7 linked regions of the Homo sapiens genome follow. The protein of the gene in region 1 purifies or fractionates together with the protein of each later gene. This does not show direct contact. Each region holds a gene or a part of one and is shown in the gene's direction. Other genes may lie near its edges. The genes, in order: UBA6, PCDHGA9, PFKP, AHCY, ENOPH1, FAM114A2 and PPP1R12A.

Region 1 (3,500 bases):
GACTAGAACTGTCAACAAAGACATAAAATTTTATTCACTTGCTGAGACAAAGTGAGTCATTTTAGATTAGGTAAACCAATAAACCTAGGCAAAATGTACTCTATAATAGAATGTGGATTTCTTCAATGGTACTTTATCCACAAAAAACGACTTAGGTATTTACCATTTATTTAATACATGCTTTCTGCAAGAAACCTCAAGCATTGAGGACATATTTCTGCTCCCAGATGTTTTTCTCCATGGAAAAACTCATGCTTTTCTGAGCACTATACTGGGTATTCCTGAATTACTTTTCAAAGCGGGGCAGTGTTATAAAACTTTAAATGTCACCTTGATTCATGAGGAAAAAAATGATTTATAGATGATGGTGTGTCATGAGTACTACATGGTGCTTTAAATGAGTACACAAATAATAAATAAGATTCATGTTTGGCATTACATAGCTATTAACAAATAGGTTAAATGTCAAAAGAATTAACTTCTCTTATTGCCTAAGAGAGAGAAGATATAAAAATGTCTGGTTGGATTTTATTTATTTTTGGATTTTTAATAGGCTTAAAGCTCAAAACTAGATTAAATCAATAAAAATTGGTCATTGCTTCCCCTTAAGTACCTGTTGTCATATTTTATAAATTAGCGGGATCCCCCAGAAGAGGAAATACCATTTTGTACTCTAAAATCCTTTCCAGCTGCTATTGAACATACCATACAGTGGGCAAGAGATAAGGTAAAAGTTCCTTTTTAAATTTATTTTCTTTGAAGTGAGAAAGAAGATATTTCTGACTTTAAACAGACTTCTATTTGTAATTTTTTTTTTCTTTTCTCTGTTACAGTTTGAAAGTTCCTTTTCCCACAAACCTTCATTGTTTAACAAATTTTGGCAAACCTATTCATCTGCAGAAGAAGTCTTACAGGTAAAAATCAGTAAATTTTAATACAAACTTAACACTTTGTGTCAGTGTAATCTTATTTTCAAGTCATCTACAAGTGATTTATTTTACCTCCATAAAGAGTGATTGTATATAAAAAATGAAATGATACATAAGGAATCTTGAAATTAGGTCACAAATTATCATTTTGGTTGTTTGAACTACATGGAATTGTCGATATTTGAGCATGTTCGACTCACAAAACAGCAATTCGTATGGTGCGAGCTAATAAAGATATGATAATTATGATAGAAGGGCTACAAATAATAAAAGGGCTTTTATTAAGCCCTTTGGAAAGAAAAAATTGAGGTAAGTTCTAGTTAAAATTTCATGAGGGAACAATAATCTCCAAGACTTATTACTCTTATAGTGAAGGCAACTTTAAAGATGTTTTCTCACTTTCTTTTAATCTTTTGCTAACAAGGCCCACTTTTTAGTATCAAATATTCATAGCACTTATAGTGAGTACATATATTATAGTACTAATAACTTACAGCTAGGAAAATATGAGGATAACTTGTAAGATAAGAAATCAGAGTTAAAATTTTGTATGCTATCTCTTACCATTCCCCTTCTCAAACAGAAAAGAAAAGAAAGGTTAAAGAAGAAGGAAGGGAAAAGGAGCTTGAGGTGAAAAAAGAAAAGCATAAAACACATGAGTTGACACTTCAAACTTAGGCTAACTTTTGGTGAGGGATGTGTATATGTTTGTAATTGGAAGTATGTTGATTTTTTTTTTCTCTCCCATTCTAGAAGATACAGAGTGGACACAGTTTAGAAGGCTGTTTTCAAGTTATAAAGTTACTTAGCAGAAGACCTAGAAATTGGTCCCAGTGTGTAGAATTAGCAAGATTAAAGTTTGAAAAATATTTTAACCATAAGGTAAGTATGCATTGTGAGACATTAAGAAAAGGTCTGATCTTGGCTTATTTAGTTATTAACAAATTAATTTCATTGACCTGAAATGTGTATTCTTTCTTTTGGCAAGCTTTTCAGAAATTAGTAGTAAGTTAAATGAGAACACATGCTAATCTAAAAGAAGTTTGTTCAGAATAGAAGAAGCAAGAAACTGAGAAAATAGGGACATTTAGTCAGAAATTTTGCTGAGATTTTGCCATTTCCACCCATATCTGATAATCACATTTTATGTCTGTTTCCCCATCTGTAAAATAGAAATAATAAATTTGTACCTAATACATAAGGTAGTGGTAAAGATAAAAGGAGGTAACACAAAGCATTTAGAACAGAGCCTGGCACATAAAAAATTACTAAATATTAGCTGTTATTCTTACCTCCAGTTAAATATAGTTGCTGGAATGTGTGTTGCCTTCTCTTTAGTCTTTCCCTCTCTTTAGGATCTTAAGTTCATCTTCCTTAGAAACAACTTTAAAAAAAAACAAAAAAACAGGGTTTCCCTATGTTTTCCAGTCTGGCCTGGAACTCCTGGGCTCAAGTGATCCCTGCCTCAGCCCTTAAGTAGCTGAGGCTGCATGTGCACGCCACCACACCCCACTTAAAAAATATTTCGTTTATACTTCTTCTTTTTACTTTCAACAGAGCTCTACTTCTTGGAAAAGTGGTCTGTACTACTCAATGTTACCACTTCTTTACCCAGTAAATTTGACTTCTTTGCTCATTACTCTTCAGATTGTTCTTAACATGGTTATCAATGACCCGTTTCAAAAATCTAAGGAACTCTTTAGTTCTTATCTTCTGTGCATTTTTTTTAAACTTTTTTTATAATGAAAAATATTCAGCCATAGAAATGTAGAGGAAATAGTATAATGAACCCTAATGTAATTGTCAATTACCTATCACCCAGGGTTAGCAGTTATCAATTCATAGATAAATCTTGTTTCATCACCATTCCCGTTCATTCTTACCTTCCCCCAGGTGATTTTGAAGCAAATCTCAAACATGTATCAATTTCAAAAATACAAAGTACTGTGTGTTTTTTCTGGTTTTGTTATTTAAGTACTAGCTCTTTAAAAAGAACAGAATGACATGTAAAATATGCCATTTATATAAAAAGGAGTGAAGTAATCTACATTTGTTTGCTGTAGATACCACCTCCCAATAAACCTACAAATAGTGATAGAAAATGATATTTGAATTTTTCATTTATGAGGGACATTGACAGGAGAATGGACAGATGGAATACAAGGGTGGTAGGGAGACTTCACTGTGTCTCTTTTAATGTGTTTTGATTTTTGAATCATGTGCATATATTTACTACACACATTTTTTAATTTTATTTTTTAATTTTTCCTCAGATAATATTAAGTAGTGGGTGTCTTTAATTCATTTTTTTTCTTTAGGCTCTTCAGCTTCTTCACTGTTTCCCTCTGGACATACGATTAAAAGATGGCAGTAAGTATAAATGTTGAGAATAAATTTTAATGACATTTATTACTGGCTACATACATTGAAAATGATATTTGTATCTTTTTGCCAGGTTTATTTTGGCAGTCACCAAAGAGGCCACCCTCTCCAATAAAATTTGATTTAAATGAGCCTTTGTAAGTATTTATATTTAGTTTTATGTATCCTTCATTATATATTTCTTTACTG
Region 2 (3,500 bases), on another chromosome or scaffold:
GCTGAGTTCATCTACTTAGGGACGGGGAATCCCAGATTGGGCAAAACCAAAAGCAGGGACAGACCTTGGAAAAATTGTAAAGCAGTTCTTGGTTGTGCTCACCCACCATGACAAAATATGCACACACACAACGCAACACACACACAGACATTTTCATGCCTTCAAGGCCTACCCTACAGCCTTTCCCATGGTGCCAAACCCTTCTTCTTACCTTACAGTCACTTAACTGTCTCTGCTGGTCTCTTCCCACTCATTTAGGCAACAAATATTTATTGAAAAACTTCTCTGAGCCAGATGGTGCCAAACAGTTACCTAAAGGGCAGACTGTGTGTGTGCCAGGGCTGTTTCCCGCCAACACTCCCCTGCAAATTGAAATAATTTCATCCTTGGAAATTCAAAAAAATCATGAAAATTGTCACTGTGGGAAAATTCCAAGTAGAGCTGAACCTTCTAAGAAGCAGAGAGTTCTTCTTATGGTTTAGTATTTTTTTAAATTATGAATCATTTCATGTTTTTTCAACACTCGGAGTTTCTAAAAGTCTCACTTAGGTCCAAGTGCTAGGCTTTGTGCTAGGTGCTTCAGTAGGAAGCAGGTGGAGTCGCTGCCTCACAGAAGCCAGTGTGGTGGAGGAACAGACAGGCACTACAACAGCTGCAGTGTGACTAGTGCCATGTGGGGCAGCCGCTGGGATGGGAGTACAGTGGAGGCACCTGCCCAGTCTGAGTGGATCTCCTCTGATATATTTTATTCGTGTCATCATGGCAAATGTTGGGGGACTGGCATTCTAGGGAACACCATCTGCCCAGGATTCACAGCAAGAGGGAACTTGAGGGATAGGAAAGTGCACCTTGGAAAAGGTTTGATGATAGAGTGTTTGAGGGCGGGGGGTGGGGGTTCTTGTAAAATAGGAGGGGCAGGTTCTTCTATGGCCGTGGATTTTACTCTGAGGGCTTAGGAAGCCATTGAATTTTAGAAATTTCTTCTCCCTGCTCCAGGGTCTCTTGGGGCCTCCTACATCTCCCCCTAGGTACCTCCTAGGTCCCCACTTTTTCTCTAGCTCTGGAACATTCTCTTCCATTTCCCACCTTCACAGTCCTCTGGAGAAGGTCTGATCTCCCTCACTATGACAGGAAGCCAGGCTCTCTCATGGTGGGTGGGGGAATGCACTATGTTCAATGCATTGGACCAGCCTGGCCAACATGGTGAAACCCCGTCTGTACTAAAAATACAAAAATTAGCCTGGCACAGTGGCAGGTGCCTGTCATCCCAGCTACTTGGGAGACTGAGGCAGGAGAATCGCTTGAACCCAGGAGGTGGATGTTGCAATGAGCCAAGATCGCGCCACTGCACTCCAGCCTGGATGACAGAGTAAGACCCTGTCTAAAACAAAAAGAAAAAAGCATCGGAGGCAGCAAAGAGCTGGTTTGAGGGACTGACTTGTGGGATTCTGGCTTCTGAAGGATTGTAGAAGTGCCTCCTACCTTGCTGAGAGAAACAGGTCTTGGGCATGGGGTAGGGTTAGGGTACTAGGTTTGGGAGCCCTGGGAGAGGACAGGAGGGGCATGAGCTGTGCCGGCCTGGGAGTCTGTGCTCACCATCCTACTCTCTCCCCAGCTCCCAAAATGGCGATGACACCGGCACCTGGCCCAACAACCAGTTTGACACAGAGATGCTGCAAGCCATGATCTTGGCGTCCGCCAGTGGTAAGTGGTGTCAGTGTGTGTATGGAAGAGTGGGAGACCTGGGGTTCTGGGGTGCATCTCACAGCCACCATGCCCACGGACTGGATGTCAAACCTGTGTAGTTTCTCCAGATCTTTCGGCAGGTCTGAAAGGACCCACAATTCCAAACATAAAGCCTGGAATTGTGGCTAAGGAACAGCAGAGGGGTTGGGGGTCCTGGGATGCCTGGAGGAGAGCGAACAAGGAAAAGACTCATGGAGGGAATAGTGGTTACAAGTCTAGCTCTGGAATGGGACAGTGTAGCTCAGGTCCTAGCTCTGCTACTATCCTTGGGACTTGGATCGACTTGCTCAATCTCTCTAAACCTCAGTTTCCTCAGCCTAGAAAGTGGGGACAGGGACCCCAAAGGGTTGTTGTAGAGATTAAATGAGATGATACCACAAAGCATAGAGTTCTGGGCCTGGCGCTTGGAAGCCCTCAAGCAATGAAAGTGGGTGTAGAAATCCCCAGCCGAGAGAACACCTCCTCTTTATGCGAGGCTCCTCTTTTGCTGCCCCTAACTCCAGAGTAGGATTCTGGTTTTCCCATAAGGTTGACTAAGGGCTTCCTTTGTAATAGAGATTCGGCTAGTGGTGGTTGTCCCTGAAGAGTCACTAGGGCCCAGAGCAGGAGAAGAAGAATATCATTTGTCCTTAAGAGCACAGCCTAAGCTGGGCGTGGTGGCTCACGCCTGTAATCCCAGCACTTTGGGAAGCTGAGGCAGGAGGATCATGAGGTCAGGAGTTCGAAACCGGCCTGGCCAACATAGTGAAACCCTGTCTCTACTAAAAATACAAAAATTAGCTGGGCATGGTGGTGCGTGCCTGTAGTCCCAGCTACTTGGGAGGCTGAGGCAGGAGAATCGCTTGAACCTGGGAGGTGGCTGTGGTGAGCAGAAAATCGCACCACTGCACTCCAGCCTGGGCAACAGTCTCGCTCTGTCTCAAAAAAAAAAAAAAAAAAAAAGAGCACAGGCTTTAGAGGCAGGCCAATCTGGATTCAAATCCTGGCACCTGGCACCACCACTTAGCAATGAGTCCTTAGGTAAGTTATTAAACCCCCTCGGTTTCACTTACTATTAATGGGCACAGTATTAACGGATCTCATTGTGGTGTTACCAGGGCCAAATGCAAGTCCCTCAGCACAGGATTGGCAGAGAGTAAGGGCACAATATATTATTATCTTTGCTGACCCAAACCCGTTTTTTACTGGGTAGAAAGCAGAATTAGAATAATGCCTATTAATAAAGACTAGCTTCTGGAGCAGCAAATCCTGGGCTTATAAGGAGGCTGGCAGAGGATCAAGGCATTGCCCTATATCATGAACTGATAGCCCTGCCCTCCAGCATGTCTGGAGGACTGGTGGGTAGAGAACCAGGTGAAATCACAAGAAGCACTGTCATCACACCTGGGCACATACTAAACAAACTTTAGGGGCCTCCTGTCAATGAATCCTCTCAATAGCTCTGCAAGGCAGGTCTGATTTCTCACACTCGACAGATGAGAGAACCGAGAAGGCACTTGCCCCAGGGTCCTCAGTTTTGAGCTGCCAAGCTGAGGTTCTAACCTGGCTCAACTCCTAAGTTTATGCTCTTTCTACTATAGGGACCATGGCTGCCTTTGGATCCAGCCTCGGCTTCTCTATTACCTGAGCAGGATGAGAGGCTGTCCTCTTCCTCGAGCTCTGCTTTATTCTTCCAGATCAGGGTTGCCAGATAAAATACAGGATGCCCAGTTACAGTTGAATGTCAGATAAACAGCAAGTACTATTTCAGCATA
Region 3 (3,500 bases), on another chromosome or scaffold:
CACAATCCCAGGGCAGAAAGGCTGTGTTTCTAGTGAGTTTCTGGAAACTGACTCAGGGCAGCAGGAATCCCAAGTACAAACCCTCAGTTCTTAACACTCCTGCTCTCCATGTGCCCTGACCTCCTCTCTGTTCCCGTCTTGCCAGTTCTAAAGGAGTGGAAATCGCTTTGCTCTAAAGAGTTGGGCTGGAAGCGGGAGGGGCTGTGAGCACCTGACTGAGGTCATTGGACGTCATGGAAAGATAGGAGGTGACAGGGACAGGGCAGGACGGGAGGCTGCCCCTGACCCACATGGACCTGGTTTCCAGGCCAGCCGCATGGGAGTGGAGGCAGTCATCGCCTTGCTAGAGGCCACCCCGGACACCCCAGCTTGCGTCGTGTCACTGAACGGGAACCACGCCGTGCGCCTGCCGCTGATGGAGTGCGTGCAGATGGTGAGTGGGCAGCCCATGGCCAAGGGCAGGGCGGAGACGGCTGGGACAGAAGCTGCTTGTCAGGCCAGCCTGGGCACCTTGGGTGTCTCGTCGGTGCACGATGCATTACACGGCCTTTCTGAGAAGGAGGTGAGCTGCCCGTGGGGAGGGAGAAGGCTTATGTTCTCTCCCACACCTGCAGAGCCTGCGCCGTCTTCGCTCTTTGGTTTTCTAAGTTACCATCCATCTGTGTGGCACATAGTCGTAACCTCCCCTGAGTGGGGGTCTAGAGCATCGGGATCCTCAACAGTCGAGGATCCAGGTGGCCCCAGTGCACCAGGTGCTGCAGAAGGACAGAGTGCAGGGAGGCAGCCGAGAGAGAGAGATCCGTGGACAGACTGCAGGGAGGCGGGCGTGAGAGAGACCCATGGGGCAGAGGGGGCAGGGAGGCAGGGAGGCGGGCGTGAGAGAGATCTACAGGGTGGTATTTTGTAGGGGAAGGTGGGACCTTCCCAAACTTCTCCAGTTTCAGCCATTTCCTGTCCTCCTATCCCCAAGGACATTCAGGTCTGTGATGGGACACAGGGAAAGCTCTGGTCACCCGAAGATACACCCACCCTTCTTGGGCCAGGGAACTGTCTGCCTGCAAATGAACAAAGGGAAAAGCAGTTCCAGCTTTTCAGGCATTGGTTCAGTAGTGGAGGTGGCTGTGGAGTTAGCTGCATTTGAAGTTATTTAATTAATTAATTTATTTATTTAGAGACGGAGTCTCACTGTTGCCCAGGCTAGAGTGCAGTGGCGTGATCTTGGCTCACTGCAAGCTCCGCCTCCTGGGTTCACGCCATTCTCCTGCCTCAGCCTTCCGAGTAGCTGGGACTACAGGTGCCCACCACCACGCCTGGCTAATTTTTTTTTTTTTTTTTTTTTTTTGTATTTTTAGTAGAGGTGGGGTTTCACCGTGTTAGCCAGGATGGTCTGGATCTCCTGACCTTGTGATCCATCCACCTCGGCCTCCCAAAGTGCTGGGATTACAGGCATGAGCCACCACGCCCAGCTGTTGTTTTATTTTTCAGAGTTCATTCATGATTCGTGACTCCTGTTTTGTTGCCTCTTAACACACACAAAGAAGTCGTGAAGCAATCAAGTCAGGGACTTGTTGAAAGTCACCTTGTAAACATAATTTCCAAAAGCCCAAGGGAGAAAATAGTATTTGTGTGTATGTGTGTGAGTGTGTGCGCAGGCTTGTGTCTCTGTGTGTATGTATGTATATGTGTGTGCATGTGTATCTCTGTATATGCATATACATGCAGGTTTATGCATATATTTATGCATGTGTGTGCATGTTTGTGAGGTAGTTTGGGTCTGCATGTATGTGTATGTTTATATGCATGAGTATGCATGTTTGTGGTAGTATGTCTGCATGTATGTGTGTGCATGTTTGTGTGCATGCATGTTTGTACGTGTGTGCATGTTTTTGTGAGGTAGTGTGTGTGCATGTTAGTGTGTGTGCATGTGTGTATATGCATGTGTACATTTGAGTGTGAGGTAGTATGTTTCTGCATGTTAGTGTGTGCATGTATGTTTATATGCATGTGTATATATGTGTGTGAGGTAATGCATCTGCATGTGTGTGCATGTATGCTTATATGCATGTGTGAGCATGTTTGAGATAGTGTGTGCATGTCTGTGTGTGCATGTGTTTATATGGATGTGTGTGTATGTTTGTGAGAGGTAGTATGTGCCTGCATGTTTGTGTGTGTGTGCAGGTATGTTTCTATGCAGATGTGTGCATGTTGGCATGAGTGTGAGGTAGCGTGTGTCTGCATGTTTGTGTGTGCAGGTATGCTTATGTGCATATGTGTGTATGTTGGAGTGTGAGGTAGTGTGTGTCTGCACGTTAGTGTGTGCCTGTGTGCATGTGAGAGGCAGTAGGCTTAAAAGGCTCAGAGCACTGAACGACATGCGGTACGTGTATTTTGAGCCTGTGTCTCATGTCTCTGCTTGTCTAGAGACGACCGTGGTAGGTGTCACTTGCCCTGACCTTGAAACCACCCTTGTGTGGCTTTGTTTTTAAAGCTGAGGGACCACTACTGTGCACCTGCTGTTTGTCAGGCGTCTTCCTGAGGGTCTGACATGCTTGAATAACCTTAGAGATAGCTGGAAGTAGGAGTATTTTTCTCATCTTACAGATGAGGAAATTGAAGTTCAGAGCGAGAAAGAACTTGACCAAGATCCTGACGTTGCCCAGGGCTGCCTGGCGTGCATCAGTCCCAGCCCCGTGTCCCAGGGCCTCCATCCGGGCCCCTCTGCTCCCCCGCCCGCTGTGACCTCGCTCCCATCCCACATCCCCCAGTGAGCTGGTGTGTTCTGTTTTGTTTTTCCCCACCATAATCAAATTGAGAATTCCTTAGAACCATGCCTGAGAGATTTCATTTCCTCTGGCTTTGTTCTCTTGGAGTTAAATCTTCACAGTGTTGTGTCCACAAACAGCAGGTGACACCTTCTCTTTTTCCTCAGAAGCCTCCTGAGCTAAGCAGTCCCAGGGCTCTGACCTCACAGCCGGGCCGTGTGGGGCTGGCTGCCAACCAGCATTAGGACACACTTGGCGGCCGGTCGTCTAGACCATTAACCCTGGGGCTGCTGGCTGCCCGGGTCAGACTGGAGGGGGCTGGTGGGAAGGACCGAGCCAGTCTCTACCTACCCCATCCATGATGCACCAGGTCCTGACACATTCTTTCTTCTTTTCATCATTGTTTTAAAAGACTCAGGATGTGCAGAAGGCGATGGACGAGAGGAGATTTCAAGATGCGGTTCGACTCCGAGGGAGGTGAGGTGCTTTGGAGAAAGCTCTGCCCTGTCAGGAACACACACCCCTCAGGCCCAGCCACTGCAAACGTGCTTAGGGGTTGTGCTTATTCCATGTCACTGTGAAAAATCAGAAAGTCAGGCAGTACTCACAGCACCGCTCTTGCAGTAGCAGGCCCTGGTGACTGGTTAGAGAGAAATCATTTTCTAAATTTGCCATTGGTCCTTTTTGGTAAGGTGATGGTTGTTTAGGAGCTAATGAGATTAAGGCACAAGGTGACTT
Region 4 (3,500 bases), on another chromosome or scaffold:
TGAGGCCAGGAGTTCGAGACTAGCCTGGCCAACATGGTTGAAACCCCGTCTCTACTAAAAATACAAAAAAATTAGCTGGGCCGGGTGCGGTAGCTCATGCCTGTAATCCCAGCACTTTGGGAGGTCGAGGCGGGCGGATCACATGAGGTCAGGGGTTCGAGACCAGCCTGACCAATATGATGAAACCCCATCTCTACTAAAAATAGAAAAATTAGCCGGGTGTGGTGGCGGGCACCTGTAATCCCAGCTATTTGGGAGGCTGAGGCAGGAGAGAATTGCTTGAAGCTGGGAGGCGGAGGTTGCAGTGAGCCGAGATCGCACCCTCGCACTCCTGCCTGGTTAATAAGAGTGAGACTCCATCTCAAAAAAAAAAAAAAAAAAAAGGCCAGGTACAGTGGCTCATGCCTGTAATCCCAGCACTTTGGGAGGCCTAGGTGGGCAGATCACGAGGTCAGGAGTTTGAGACCAGTCTGGCCAACATAGTGAAACCCCGTCTCTACTAAAAATACAAGAAGTTAGCCGGGTGTGGTGATGTGCACCTGCAATCCCAGCTACTTGGGAGGCTGAGGCAGGAGAATCACATGAACCCGGGAGATGGAGGTTGTAGTGAGCCGAGATTGTTCCACTGCACTCCAGCCTGGGTGACAGTGCGAGACTCTGTCTCAAAAACAAACAAACAAAAAAATCAGCTGGGCATGGTGGTGGGTGCCTGTAATCCCAGCTACTCGGGAGGCTGAGGCATGAGAATCGCTTAAACGTGGTAGGCAGAGGTTGCAGTGAGCCGAGATTGCGCCATTGCACTCCAGCCTGGGCAACAGAGCGAGACTCCATCTCAAAAACAAAACTAAAAACAAAAAACAAAAAGGGACACAGCTTGAATCACTGTGTGAGGAGCAGGCCCATGCACTGAGCTGGGAAAGAACAGGTTTGCATTGGGCATTGGGGCACTGAAACTGGAAGATGAGTTCTTATAGGGGGTGTGAAGTTTTACTTGAGTTGCAATTATTATGAGTTTATTTTTTTCTCTGATTATAAAAGTAGTATGTTTCTGGAAGACATTTTGGCTTTGGATATCAAGAGCTTTAAAGTTAAGCAACCTCTTTGACTGGGCAATCTCTCCTATAATTGGTCCTTAGGATAATTAAATATGTATGTAGAGATGTTCATCATTTTTTTTTTCTTTTTTTGAGATGGGCTCACTCTGTTACCCAAGCTAGAGGGCAGTGGCATGATCATGGCACACTGCAGCCTTGACCTCCTGGGCTGAAGGAGCTGATCCTCCTGCCTCAGCCTTCCAAGTACCTGGGACTACAGATGTGCACTACTACACCTGGCTAACTTTTTATTTTTTGTAGAGACGAGGCCTTGCTGTGTTCCCCAGGCTGGTCTCAAACTCCTGAGCTTAAGTTATCTCCCAAAGTGCTGGGATTATAGGCGTGAGCTGCCACACCAGGTCCACCACATTTTTTAAAGGGAGAAAAGCCCACCTATGTGAGGTTCTTTGAGTTGGTGCTGTGCCGTGTTTGAGATATGATAAGGAAGATACAGACACAGAGTTGGCCAAAGCCCTGACACCCACCCAGTCACAGCCACACCAGAAGCCCAAGTCCCAGAGAGGCAGACAGGCAGCTCTATGAACCCACATCCCCTACACTGCTCCTCTTGGGTGCTCTGCTCCTGCGTGGGAGTTCTCCTTGGCTAGGTCCTGCACTAGTCTAGGGTGTCAGTTCCCGGCTAGGCAGAGGGCACCTCCATCTCTGCCTAGAAGGCCTGGCACTCATCACAGTGTGGGGGTGGCCAGGGCGTGCTTCTGTGGCAGCCACACCCCTGACAGCCATCTGTCTAGACCTCCTTTTTGCAAAGGCATCACAGGTGAAACCTGCTACATTGGGGTGATGGGCACCTTTCTGCCAAGCTGCCCTCCAAAGCTGGACTCTATGCCCACCCTCAACATCCTTGACAGTCTTGCCAACCTTCTGCCCAACATTATCTCTTGTCCGTCCTCTCAAGGGCCTCTGTACTCAGGCCATAATTGACCACTCCCTGAATACCCACTGCAGCTCCTACTTCTGCTCATCTGTCCAGACAGCTGCATTTGTCTGGAACAGAACACATGCCCTTCTCCTTGTTCATCTTCTCAGCCCAGCTCAAGAGACCCCCTTCTGGCCAGGCACGGTGGCACACACCTGTAATTCCAGCACTTTGGGAGGCCGAGGCAGGCGGATCACTTGAGGTCAGGAGTTTGAGACCAGCCTGGCCAACATGGTCAAACCCTGTCTCTACTAAAAATACAAAAAATTAGCTGGGCATGGTGGCTCATGCGTATAGTCCCAGCTACTCTGGAGGCTGAGGCAGGAGAATCGCTTGAACCCAGGAGGTGGAGGTTGCAGTGAGCTGAGATCACACCACTGTACTCCAGCCTGGATGACAGAGTAAGACTCCGTCTCAGAAAAAAAAAAAAAAAAAAAATTAATAAAATAAAAAAGAGACCCCCTTCCTGGCCAGCTCCTCTGGCAGAGGCAATGCCCACACTCTTAGTACAGACCCCTAGTGCAGCATCCATCACTGGCTTTGGTCTCTGACCCCACTGTTGTACCAGGAGGGTAGAGTCCAGGTTGACGTGTCCCTGCAAGGGGCTTAGATGGGTATCAGTGAGTGCTTATTGATTGAAGCATCAATCAATGCCTGATGGGCATCAGAGACCTTTCCTTGGATCGGTACTAGGCCTCTGGAGCAGCTTGGAAACCTGGGCTTTTGGGGAAATGTTTGGGAGGCTGCCTGAGGGTGGAGGGATGGCAAGGGAAGAGCTGGGAGTGGGGAGAAAGCAAGTTTGTGTGTTCAGACAGCTGGGACAGACGGAGGACTGGGGCACTGAGGCTGGGGATTTCCATGTCACGTTCACTCACTAAACCGGGAGTTCTCAACCTTGGCAGTCACCTGGGAGCCACACTGTGGGCCACAGGAATAGGAGTCTCTGGGAATGAGGCCAAGGTATCTTTTTTTTTTTTTTTTTTTTTTTTTGAGACGGAGTTTCGCTCTTGTTGCCCAGGCTGGAGTGCAATGGCGCGATCTTGGCTCACCACAACCTCCGCTTCCCAGGTTCAAGCGATTCGCCTGGCTCAGCCTTCCTGAGTAGCTGGGATTACAGGCATGTGCTACCATGCCTGGCTAATTTTGTGTTTTTAGTAGAGACAGGGTTTCTCCATGTTGTTCAGGCTGGTCCCGAACTCCCGACCTCAGGTGATTCCCCCCGCCTTGGCCTCCCAAAGTGCTGGGATTACAGGCATGAGCCACCGCGTCTGGCCTGGGTATCCTCATTTTTTAAAGCTTCTGAGGTGATTCCAATGTGAGCGCCACGGCATTCAGCTTTTGCTAAGCTGCATTCAAAACTATTTCATGGTTATTGAGAACATGGGATCTGTCCTCAGACCGTCCAGACTCAAATTGCAGCCTCCTCTTAGTGTGTGGCTCTGGACAAGTGACCTAACCCTTGTAAACTT
Region 5 (3,500 bases), about 15 Mb from region 1:
GAAAGTTAGGTCTGTGTGGATGTTTATGGTAATTATGTAAAAAAGGATTCCATTAAATGCACTTTTGGGAAATGCTAGTTAGAATGAGTTCAAATAGATTTCTTTATTGCAAGACTTCTCAGAACCTTCGGTATCATACATATATATACACACATACACACTTTGTGAGATTTCAAGAGAGTGACATTTCACAAATCTACTTGAACAAAAAACTTTTAGTAGAGTATCTCAGTGACTAATCTTTTAAACACCTTTTAAAGAGATGCTGAGTTACATTCTTGAATCTGAGCACGGAAAGGTTGAGCATGGGAGTTGAAAGATAATCTGCTTGGAGCTTTAAAGTCAGAGTAGGTGTGTGAACTTGTAGCCCTTCCTTCTGTGGAATGATGGAAGGAAACATTGAGTACTGTATACGTGCAGTACTCAATCCTTGACTCATTCTAAAAGACCATGAGGTGTATGTACTGTCTACACTTTACTTAGGATGAAACAAAGCCTCTGAAAAGTTGAACAAGATGCCTGGGATTTGAACTCAGATTGTCTTATTCATAAAAACTCTTATTTTTTCCATTACTGCACTCAGCCTTGGAAATGGGATGCTACTGTTTGTCCTGTCTCCTTTGCTTGGTGGTTGTGTATGTTAAATGACACAGTTAGTATGAGAGTTCTTTAATCAATGTGAAGTACTGTGCTATAAAAGTATATGGTAACAAGCCAGGTACGGTGGCTCAGGCATGTAATCCCAGCACTTTGGGACGCCGAAGCAGGTGGATCTCTTGAGGTCAGGAGTTCGAGGCCAGCCTGGCCAACATGGTGAAAGCCAGTCTCTACTAAAAATACAAAAAGTAGGCCAGGCATGGTGGCTCATAATCCCAGCACTTTGGGAGGCCGAGACAGGTGGATCACCTGAGGTCAGGAGTTTGAGACCAGCCTGGTCAACATGGTGAAACCCCGTCTCTACTAAAAATACAAAAATTAGCCGGGCATGGTGGTGGGCACCTGTAATCCCAGCTACTCAGGAAGCTGAGGCAGAAGAATCACTTGAACCCAGGAGGTGGAGGTTGCAGTGAGCCGAGATTGTACCACTGCCTTCCAGCCTGGGCAACAGAGGAAGACGCTGTCTCAAAAAAAGAAAAGAAAAGAAAAAAAGGAATAAATAATTCAAAAATTAGCTGGGCATGGTGGCGCACACCTGTAATCCCAGCTACTGGGGAGGCTGAGGTGGGAGAATCGCTTGTACCTGGGAGGCGGAGGTTGCAGTGAGCCGAGATCGTGCCAGTGCACTCCAACCTGAGTGACAGAGCGAGACTGTCTTTAAAAAAAAAAAAAAGTATATGGTAACAAATTTCAGTTTATAGCATGTCTTTGTGTCTTGCCTGAGGATCATCAAAATTTGTTGGGAGTAGAGCTGCAGCAGAGCCCAGTTTTCCTTAGATGTTCCCACCGCATCTAAATCCACCGCCACCATCCCTGCACTTTACCGCAGGACACATACCTCTGGTGTTTGTTCTTTTTTGTCTTTGTTTTTCTGAAGCAGGGTCAGGCTGTGTCACCCAGGCTGGAGTACAGTGGCACGATCACAGCTCACCGCAACCTCGACCTCTCAGGCTTAAGCAATCCTCCTACCTCAGTCTCCTGAGTAGCTGGGACCACGAGTGTGCACCACCATGCCTAGCTAGCTTATTTTTATTTTTTATAAAGATGGGGTTTCACAGTGTTGCCCAGGCTGTTCTCAAACTCCTGGACTCAAACAGTCCTCCCATCACGGCTTCCCAGAGTGCTGGGATTATAGGCATGTGCCACCATGTCCAGCTAATTTTTAAAATTTTTTGCAGAGATGGGGTCTCACTGGGTTGTCCAGGCTGGTAAAGCATTTTTAGAAATAGTGAATTCATTCTTGATTATTTAACAGTCCTCTTTATGTCCTCTTATAATGTATTTTAGAAGATAATAATTGGGGAGTGTTGCAGTTAACATCTTTCTTATGAAAACTGCTATATTAAATTATGGTCTTTTTAGGAAGAGAGCTTTAAAGTCTGATAGTTATCTCCCAACTTTGGTTAAACATCCATTTGATAAGTAGTATTACTTCTATTATTGCCAGCATTGAGAAGTGTAGGATGCGCACTCTGCCTGCACAATGAAACAGCTAGAAGACAGCCTACAAGGAATGGCACACTGGAAGCATTCTTCTACCTGTGCTATTTATTATTGACACCAGTAACTGTAATAGGGTCTCTTTCCCTATCTTCATTCAGTCTACGGATTTAGGCTTTTTCATCCGCAGGGATGGGCTACTAGGATATGCTTTGTTTATAAAGGTGGTGATGAAGGTTAAATAAGATGGAATTCAAAAGCCTTTGAAAATTACGAAGTCCTATAGAAACACTGATTATAATGCAGGAAGTGTCAGACTGGAGGAAATAGAAAGTGCTTATGAAGGAAGGATTGATAAGGAAAAGAGGGATCTTACATTTCCTGAAACCCACCATGCTCCCAGTTACGTCTACCATGGTTACTCCCAGTGACTTCTGCTCCTTATTGCCCTACCCAGAAATATGTTAAAAATAAGACGCAGGATATTGTTGATCTCTAAGAATTTGTGGAAGCACTGGAATGGCAGATAAGTAGTTGTTGATGGGTTGATAAACAACTGCCCCCCTCTCCCCAAACTTTTCTACTGCTTAGGGCAGTGTTTCCCAGCTACATTCATGGTAGTACGTGAGAGGATTTTTGTTGACTCAGCTTGAAACAAGGTGAGGAGTCTTTGGAGAATCACTGTCTTGCGTATATCAAGAGGTGGATGGAGGCTAGCCTTAGCCTTGGTGGCTCACACTTGTAATCCTAGCACTTTGGAAGGCCAAGGTGAGAGGATTGCTTGAACCTAGGAGTTCAAGACCAGCCTGCGCAATGTAGCATGACCTCGTCTCTACTAAAAATAAAAAAAGTTAGCCAGGTGTAGTGGCATGTGCCTGTGATCCCAGCTACTCAGGAGGCTGAGGTAGAAGGATCATTTGAGCCCAGGAGGTCAAGGCTGCAGTAAGCCATGATCGTGCCACTGCAGTCCAGCCTGGATGACAAAGCAAGACCCTGTCTCAAAAAAAAAAAAAAAAAATGGTGGATAGAAAGCACCTCTGGCCTCTGGGAGGAAGCTGTCCCACCTAGCTGGGAGGGACCTCACCTAGGATTCAGGAGACCTGGGCTGCCTACCACATGAGCCTTAGACAATCTGCTCACCCAGCCACCTGTTAGTTCCCTAAAGCTGGGACTGTCATGTTCATCCTGCTCTCACACAGAATATGTCATCGTCGTCATCATCATCATCATCATCCTATCGTTGTTGGAACCCAAAGAATCTGCATTAAGTAAATAATTCAGTATGGGCATGGTGGCTCACCCCTGTAATCCGAACACTTTGGGAGGCAAAGGTTGGAGGATCACTTGAGGCTAGGAGTTTCAGACCAGCCTGGGCAACATAGCAAGACCCTGTCTTAAAAAAA
Region 6 (3,500 bases), on another chromosome or scaffold:
CCACTGGCATAGGATGGATGGAGAGGGAATAGGATGAGACGAGTAAAGAGTGAAGGCTAGACCTCCAAATAATATTGGCGTTTAAGAGACTGGCCAGTTAGGATCAATATATAAAAGATACTGAGGAGAAATGGTCATAAAGGTCAGAGGAGAACAGAAGAAAGTTGGGGTTACAAAAACCAAAGAAAACTAGATTCATTATCAGGAGAATGGATAAATTGTGATATATACAATCATGCATTGCTTAATGATGAGGATATGTTATGAGAACTGCATCATTAGGCAGTTTTGTCATTGGGCGAATATCAGAGAGTGTACTTACACAAACCTAGCTGATGTAGCCTGTTACACACCTAGGCTATATCGTTTAACCTATTGCTCCTGTACAAAACTGTACAGCATGTTACAGTACTGAATACTGTAGGCAGTTGCAACACAATGGTATAGAAAAGGTACAGTAAAAATATGGTATTACAGTCTTACAGGACCACCATTATATATGTGGTCTGCTGTTGACCCAAACATCATTATGTGGTGCATGACTGTATATAAAATGAAATACTACACAGCAGTTAATATGAATGAACTAATACATGCAGCAACATGGATAAATCTAACAGACATTATGTTGTGCTTAAGCCAGACACAAATTAGAATGAACTTATATTTCTATTTTTATGCATTTTAAGATTAGGAAAAATTATTTATAGTGAGCAGAAGAGGGTTTGTCTTTGGGCAGGAGGAGGGGGACATGGTTTGAATAGTATTGGCTAGGAAGGGACATGAAGGGACCTTCTAGGGATGAGGAAATATTCTATATCTTGATCACGGTTTCGTAGGCATATACACATAAAAACATTTCTTAAGCCATACTCTGAAGATTTGTGCACTTTATGTAAATTATACCTTGGTTTTTTAAAAAGCTGATTAGAGGCCGGGCGCAGTGGCTCATGCCTGTAATCCCAGCACTTTGGGAGGCTGAGGCAGGGGGATCACCTGAGGTCAGGAGTTCGAGACCAGCTTGGTCAACCTGGCGAAACCCCGTCTCTACTAAAAATACAAAAATTAGCTGGGCGTGGTGGTGGGCGCCTGTAATCCCAGCTACTCGGGAGGCTAAGGCAGGAGAATCGCTTGGACCCAGGAGGCAGAGGTTGCAGTGAGCCAAGATTGTGCCATTGCACTCCAGCCTGGGCAACAAGAGCGAAATTCCATCTCAAAAAAAAAAAAAAAATACTACCAATTAGAGAATTTTGAAAAGGAATGATGGACCACAGTGATAAGTATTGCTGAGACTAGTAGGATAAGGACTGAAAAGCTAGATGGTACGTTCAGGTAAGAACAGGAGCCCTTACTTCTAGGATGCTATTGTGTTCCTGGTAGGTGCACAGTAATTTTGGTAAACTGAATTGAATTGTTGATGGCCAATATTTTTCTTATTTAGGCAAGAAATACCGCCCACGAATGGATCAGGAAGTCTCTGACCAAGCCATTAGCAGAGAATGAAGAAGGAGAAAAACAGTCGGAAGCAGAAAATACTGAGCAAGTCAACAAAAATTCAATAGAGGTAGCCAAAGCAACTAAGCCTTTTTTGTTTGTTTTAGTAGATTTGAAATGTGTCACAATCAGGGACCCAGGCTCCTATTTTTACACTGCTGTCCGTAATTTCAACCTTGTGATCTAGGATTGTAGCATCTTAGATCCAGACTATAAGATTAAAGGAGGAGTGAAGAAAAAAAGAGAGAAAGGATGCGCGTGTGTTTTGTCATGAGGAAGGTTCCCAGAAACTGCTGCCTGACACTTGTTATCTAAATCATTTGGCCAAAACTTAGTTACTTCGTCACACCTGACTTCAGGGGAGCCCAGCTGTAAAATTATATCACTACTGTGGAAGAAGAAGACACTCTTTATTGGAAGGCAACTATTAGTCTCTGCTACAAATCCTGTAGTATGAGAGAAGTAAGGTGGTATCTTTCCACCAAATGTTTTGTTTTGCTATGCTTTGTTTTGTTTTTCCATCCAGGATATCCATGCGTTTGCAATCCGGAGCCTGGCTGAACTGACTGCCTGCTCAATTGAACTATTCCACAAAACAGCTGCATTGGTTCTGCATGGCAGGAAGCAGGAAGTGACAGCCATAGAAAGGAGCCAAACTCTTTCCCAGTAAGTGTAATGAGAATTCCTCTAAATGATGCAAATTGCAGGAGTTTTCTTGGCCTGTTTCCAAAGTTTTATAAACGTCTCTCTCAAGAAACCATTCACGTCACACCCATCCACATATTAGATGGTTTGTTCATTTTGGTTGTTTTTTTCTTTTCATTGAACCATGATAAATCAATATTATAAATATGCCCTTTTTATTAACCAACTCATGCTCTGAAGACTATTTCTTTACAGATAAGTTTTAATAGGAATGGAATTTGGTATAAGTGAAAACAGAGAAGAGTTCTAAGAACCTCAGTTCTTAATAATAGTTATTATTGAGTGCTAATTTTATACCATTCCAAGTGCCATGCTAAGGGATTTGCATGTATAATTTCTAATTTTTATACCTCCAAAAGTAAGTAATTAGTCCAGTTTTAATCATGAGGAAATGCAAACTGGAGGAGTTAAGTAATCTGTCTGTGCTGTATGGCCTGGGATTTAGCCCCAGGTCTGACTGAGTGTCCTGAACCCATTCTTTTTTTCTCATTTTATTGCTGATTTGTACAAAAATTTTTCAAAAATAGTATAGATAATCATAGGTAGGGAAGAAAAAGCCCAGTAGTTTCTAAGCAAATGTCCTGATTAAAATAATGAGAATTTTCATTGGAAACAAATGTATAAGAGTGCCCATTATTAGAACTGGGAGGGGCTGTCAGTCTTCTGCAGACTTCCTCTTTACTTGCACCATCACCATCCCACTACAGCACCCCATAATAGGGGGCTAATTTGTCTTCTTGAACTTCCTTAAGGATGAGAGACTCACAACCCTAAAAGGAGCCTGTTCTGCGGAAAAGAGGCTATTTCTGCTACTTGGAATGTTCTTTGAAATGGGGTTCACTCCCTCTCTGAATTCAAGTCTACTCAAATGCCACCTTTTTAGAAAAGCCTTCCTTCACCACAAAGTCTAAAATAGCAACTTCCACCATTCTCTGTCCTTTTACTCTGCTTTATTGTCTTAGCTTATATCACCAAGTAGGACTTACATGTATATGAATATATATGTGTGTATATGTATACATATGTGTGTATGTGTATATATGTATATGTATATAGTCTCCCCCTTAATTTAGCAAGTAAGTTGAAATCCATGAAAACTGGGACTTTTCTTGTTCACTGATATGTTCCCATTGCTTGAAAGACTTTAAATAAAATCTGGCACACACAAGACTTTAGGTAACTATTATTAAAGATGGACTAATCACTTACTTTTGGAGTTGTTGTAAAAATTAGAAATGATACATGTAAATCCCTTAGCATGGTGCCTGGCATAAAATTAGCACCCAGTAACTAATAACTAA
Region 7 (3,500 bases), on another chromosome or scaffold:
AGTAGTCGTGGAAGATGTTTGAACAATGCCATGAGAGGATTATTCTTTATAGAATATTATTCTGACAGCAGTGTACAGATTTGAAGATGAGAGGCTTATTGAGAAAAGGTTTATTAGAAAGTCATTGAAGTTGCCCACAATGATAAGAATATGAACTAGAGAAGTGACTCTGGGCTTATAAAGGAGAGGAGATTTAGAGACTTGACCTCTAATTTATGGATGGAGGAAAATGACAGAGAAGGTCTAACATAATTGTGAAGTTTGAAACATAGGAGATTGAAGAGATATACTTAGTGCCATTAACAGAATTAGGGAACTGAAGAAGAGATGGTTTGGAAGTAAAGGTGTTTTATTTTAGACATACTGAGTTTCAAGTTTTCAGTTATAGTTCTAGATTGTCCACTCTAGAATAGTGTGGTAGAATTTTACCTAGAATAGACAGGTAAAATTAGGACTGGAAATTTAGGAGACTGGACTGGAGAATAACACATTTGAGAATAAGCTGACTACAATTAATATTTAGCCTGAGGAAGTAAAGACCCTCCTCCTAACCCCCCAGGAGAAGAAAGTAGAAAGAGAATATGAGAGATCCAAGAGCAGGCTCTGGAAGGGCTAGCACAAGGAAAGTTGTACACACACACACACACAAACACACACAGCCTGTATAAGGAACGTTACACACACACACACACACACACACACACACGCACACACAGAGTCAGTCAAGAAAAGGAATGGTCAGAGTAAAAAGAAAAAGAAGGTGAAGATAGTGTCCAGTAAAAAAAGCCAAAGAAGAGAGTTTAATGGAGGAGGAGGTATAGTTAAGTATTTCAGGAAGGGTTTATTTATATATCAAGTAAAATTAAAAGGTGCTTTTAGACATATAAAGCAGTACTTAAATCCAAGTTCATGTTGGGCAGAGTGGAGGTATATCAGCCATTACAGTGTAACAAATGCCCATTTCAAAATTGATAGATAGTACTGCCTCGTTTTTCTCAACTCTAAAATAACAGTAATAGTAGTATTTCATTGGGTAATTATAAGGTTGAAACAGGATAACCCATGTGAAGCACTTAGCTGAGGGTCACACACTAGTAAATATTTGTTAAATGTTAGCTTCATTTATAACAATAAATGTTAGCTTCATTTATAACAATAAATGTTATCTGACTGACTGACTCTGGCTGTTTTATAATGGGGGAAAAAACGTTTGTTTCCAGGTTTTTTGTTTGTTTTTTTGTTTCTGTTTTTTGAGGAGGTGGGAGACCTAATGTGGGTGTTGGCAAACTATGGCTGGTGGGCCAAACCTAGCCCATTACCTGTTTTTGTATAGCAAACTGGTTGGAGAAAAAAAATAAAAAAAAGTCATTGTCCCTAAAGTTTTATTGGTTACAGCCACACTCAATCATTTGTGTATTAATATTATCTGTGTTCCACAAAGCCTAGCATTTACAGTGTAGCCCTGTAAACTCACCAATCAATAAGCAGCTGTCTCAGTACCTATCATATTGCACAGAATATTAGAGTTCGCAAACTTTCTTGGTCATTGGAGCCCCTAGTGTTTGGTAGGATTTTTTCACAGTGCCACTGGCAAAAGGAATTGCCTGTTTGTCTCATTAAGTAGTTTGATGGAAATGTGATCAAAATGGCAGTTTGTGCAGTGTCTATGAGATGTCACTGTGCTTCTCTCAAAACTTTAAAATATTCTACAGAGCCCCCGTGATTTTGTTGTGACACTCTGGAGCACTTTGGTGCACATTTTAGGAACTGAGGAATGCTTAGACACTATTGATAGCAATTCATTACTGGAAGTACCAGAGGTATATCTTTATAACAGTTTTGTCCATGAAGTGGCCCTCAAGCATCATCATGGGGGCTTTAACAAGCCCTGTTAACCTGCTAATTATAGCAAATGTTGGCAATAGATATGAAAGAAATGATTTTTAAAAAATTATTAATACCCTATGCTTGTGGCAACTAGTTAGTTGCTGTATTCACCAATCTATATAGTTAACTGTGGTTGAGTATAGAATTTCTAGAAGTGAAGTTGATGAAGTGATCTAAAGATAACAGAGGTTGCATTTTTAGGGTTGTTGGAAAGCCCTTAAAATAGCATAAATATTTGTACATAAAATTAGTTTTTATTATAGTTGAAATAGTTAATGTTTGGTGGGGAAATCAGTAAATTTAAGGCTGTGATGTTAAAAAAAAAAGTATTATAATTGGAAAAATATCAGTTACTAGTTTTTGTTGATTATATTGGACACAAAATTTTTTAACCAGAGTATATACATGGATTAAAAACAAAATTCATGTGCAGTAGTTTGTTCAGTCACATGCTATATTATCTACTCTGTATGCCTTTTAATTGCTTTAGAAGTTTATTAGATTTTTTTCAGATTATCTCATGCTAAAATTAGAACTTGTTCCCAGTGACTTTTAAAGATTGGATCATTACCCAATTATTGGGGTTAATTATAAAATTATTTTCAAATGAAGAAAATATTTTTTGTTCATAACTTCCCTTTTCTGTTTTCATGCTTTCAATCTTTGTCTCTTTACCTGTCTTATTTTAATTGGCTTTAGTATGATTTCATTGCTCCTATCATGCCTGTGGTGGAATCAGTAGATCCTGCATCATGGAGGCAGGGCTTGCGCAAAACTGGCATTGTTCTTGTGCCCAGTAAGGGTGAAAAATCTATGGTGAGGCATTTCTATGTGCAAGAATTTATATTAGGTTACAACATAACAAGTTTAATATAAATTGGTTCCAAAGATGCATGGTTTTAAGTCCTTATGGTGTGCTCATTTCTGTTTTCTGTATTTGCATCATAATTTTTCTGTGTGATATAAAGTGTGTAGTGTGTTTTCTTAAGTCTAACCCCTAGGAAGGTAGTCTATTTCTTTAAAATTTTTAGATCTTTACATTTTTTACTAAGACATTAACCTATGTAGTAAAAGTGTTTTATCCTGAAACTGTAAACCATAATTTTAAATATATTATCTGTAAACTTATTGTTTCCAATTTAAGGACTGATCAGCTTTACAAATTCTTTTTTCTTTTCCTAAAAAATAAAATAAACACAGTTTCCAACCACAGCTACAAAAATTTCTCCCAAAGAAGAAGAGAGAAAAGATGAGTCTCCTGCAACTTGGAGGTTAGGACTTAGAAAGACGGGCAGCTATGGTGCACTTGCTGAAATCACAGCATCTAAAGAGGGTCAGAAAGAAAAAGATACTGCAGGTGTTACACGTTCAGCTTCAAGTCCCAGACTTTCCTCCTCTTTGGATAATAAAGAAAAGGTAATCTATTTCACAGTCTGGTTTCTATGAAAACTGTTATGATTTCTTTTCCAGGAACATCAAATCTGGTAGATTTTCTGCTAGTTATCTTTAGATCTAGGTATCAAGTTAATTAACCTTAATGAATTACATAAGACAAATGTAATTTATACAGAATTATAAATACTGGAAAGATCAGATGTATTTGCCTAAAACAT

Evidence for each region.
Region 2: the proteins of UBA6 (region 1) and PCDHGA9 purify together in Homo sapiens (co-immunoprecipitation; one large-scale study listed by IntAct). This does not show direct contact.
Region 3: the proteins of UBA6 (region 1) and PFKP fractionate together in Homo sapiens (co-fractionation; one large-scale study listed by BioGRID). This does not show direct contact.
Region 4: the proteins of UBA6 (region 1) and AHCY fractionate together in Homo sapiens (co-fractionation; one large-scale study listed by BioGRID). This does not show direct contact.
Region 5: the proteins of UBA6 (region 1) and ENOPH1 fractionate together in Homo sapiens (co-fractionation; one large-scale study listed by BioGRID). This does not show direct contact.
Region 6: the proteins of UBA6 (region 1) and FAM114A2 fractionate together in Homo sapiens (co-fractionation; one large-scale study listed by BioGRID). This does not show direct contact.
Region 7: the proteins of UBA6 (region 1) and PPP1R12A fractionate together in Homo sapiens (co-fractionation; one large-scale study listed by BioGRID). This does not show direct contact.

Annotation. Positions count from the first base shown.
Region 1 is NC_000004.12:67,631,656-67,635,155, reverse strand, and holds part of UBA6 (ubiquitin-like modifier-activating enzyme 6), read left to right. Parts: intron 1-637; coding exon 638-727; intron 728-833; coding exon 834-914; intron 915-1,682; coding exon 1,683-1,811; intron 1,812-3,247; coding exon 3,248-3,299; intron 3,300-3,384; coding exon 3,385-3,448; intron 3,449-3,500. UniProt on the Homo sapiens protein: Activates ubiquitin by first adenylating its C-terminal glycine residue with ATP, and thereafter linking this residue to the side chain of a cysteine residue in E1, yielding a ubiquitin-E1 thioester and free AMP.
Region 2 is NC_000005.10:141,503,778-141,507,277, forward strand, and holds part of PCDHGA9 (protocadherin gamma-A9 isoform 1 precursor), read left to right. Parts: intron 1-1,615; coding exon 1,616-1,704; intron 1,705-3,500. Other genes in the region: PCDHGA1 (protocadherin gamma-A1 isoform 1 precursor), read left to right, coding at 1,616-1,704; PCDHGA2 (protocadherin gamma-A2 isoform 1 precursor), read left to right, coding at 1,616-1,704; PCDHGA3 (protocadherin gamma-A3 isoform 1 precursor), read left to right, coding at 1,616-1,704; PCDHGB1 (protocadherin gamma-B1 isoform 1 precursor), read left to right, coding at 1,616-1,704; PCDHGA4 (protocadherin gamma-A4 isoform 1 precursor), read left to right, coding at 1,616-1,704; PCDHGB2 (protocadherin gamma-B2 isoform 1 precursor), read left to right, coding at 1,616-1,704; PCDHGA5 (protocadherin gamma-A5 isoform 1 precursor), read left to right, coding at 1,616-1,704; PCDHGB3 (protocadherin gamma-B3 isoform 1 precursor), read left to right, coding at 1,616-1,704; PCDHGA6 (protocadherin gamma-A6 isoform 1 precursor), read left to right, coding at 1,616-1,704; PCDHGA7 (protocadherin gamma-A7 isoform 1 precursor), read left to right, coding at 1,616-1,704; and 11 more. UniProt on the Homo sapiens protein: Potential calcium-dependent cell-adhesion protein. May be involved in the establishment and maintenance of specific neuronal connections in the brain.
Region 3 is NC_000010.11:3,109,048-3,112,547, forward strand, and holds part of PFKP (ATP-dependent 6-phosphofructokinase, platelet type), read left to right. Parts: intron 1-307; coding exon 308-433; intron 434-3,174; coding exon 3,175-3,239; intron 3,240-3,500. UniProt on the Homo sapiens protein: Catalyzes the phosphorylation of D-fructose 6-phosphate to fructose 1,6-bisphosphate by ATP, the first committing step of glycolysis.
Region 4 is NC_000020.11:34,286,356-34,289,855, reverse strand, and holds part of AHCY (adenosylhomocysteinase), read left to right. Parts: intron 1-3,500. UniProt on the Homo sapiens protein: Catalyzes the hydrolysis of S-adenosyl-L-homocysteine to form adenosine and homocysteine. Binds copper ions.
Region 5 is NC_000004.12:82,433,590-82,437,089, forward strand, and holds part of ENOPH1 (enolase-phosphatase E1), read left to right. Parts: intron 1-3,500. UniProt on the Homo sapiens protein: Bifunctional enzyme that catalyzes the enolization of 2,3-diketo-5-methylthiopentyl-1-phosphate (DK-MTP-1-P) into the intermediate 2-hydroxy-3-keto-5-methylthiopentenyl-1-phosphate (HK-MTPenyl-1-P), which is then dephosphorylated to form the acireductone 1,2-dihydroxy-3-keto-5-methylthiopentene (DHK-MTPene).
Region 6 is NC_000005.10:154,000,911-154,004,410, reverse strand, and holds part of FAM114A2 (protein FAM114A2), read left to right. Parts: intron 1-1,441; coding exon 1,442-1,564; intron 1,565-2,020; coding exon 2,021-2,160; intron 2,161-3,500.
Region 7 is NC_000012.12:79,809,598-79,813,097, reverse strand, and holds part of PPP1R12A (protein phosphatase 1 regulatory subunit 12A), read left to right. Parts: intron 1-3,087; coding exon 3,088-3,303; intron 3,304-3,500. UniProt on the Homo sapiens protein: Key regulator of protein phosphatase 1C (PPP1C). Mediates binding to myosin. As part of the PPP1C complex, involved in dephosphorylation of PLK1. Capable of inhibiting HIF1AN-dependent suppression of HIF1A activity.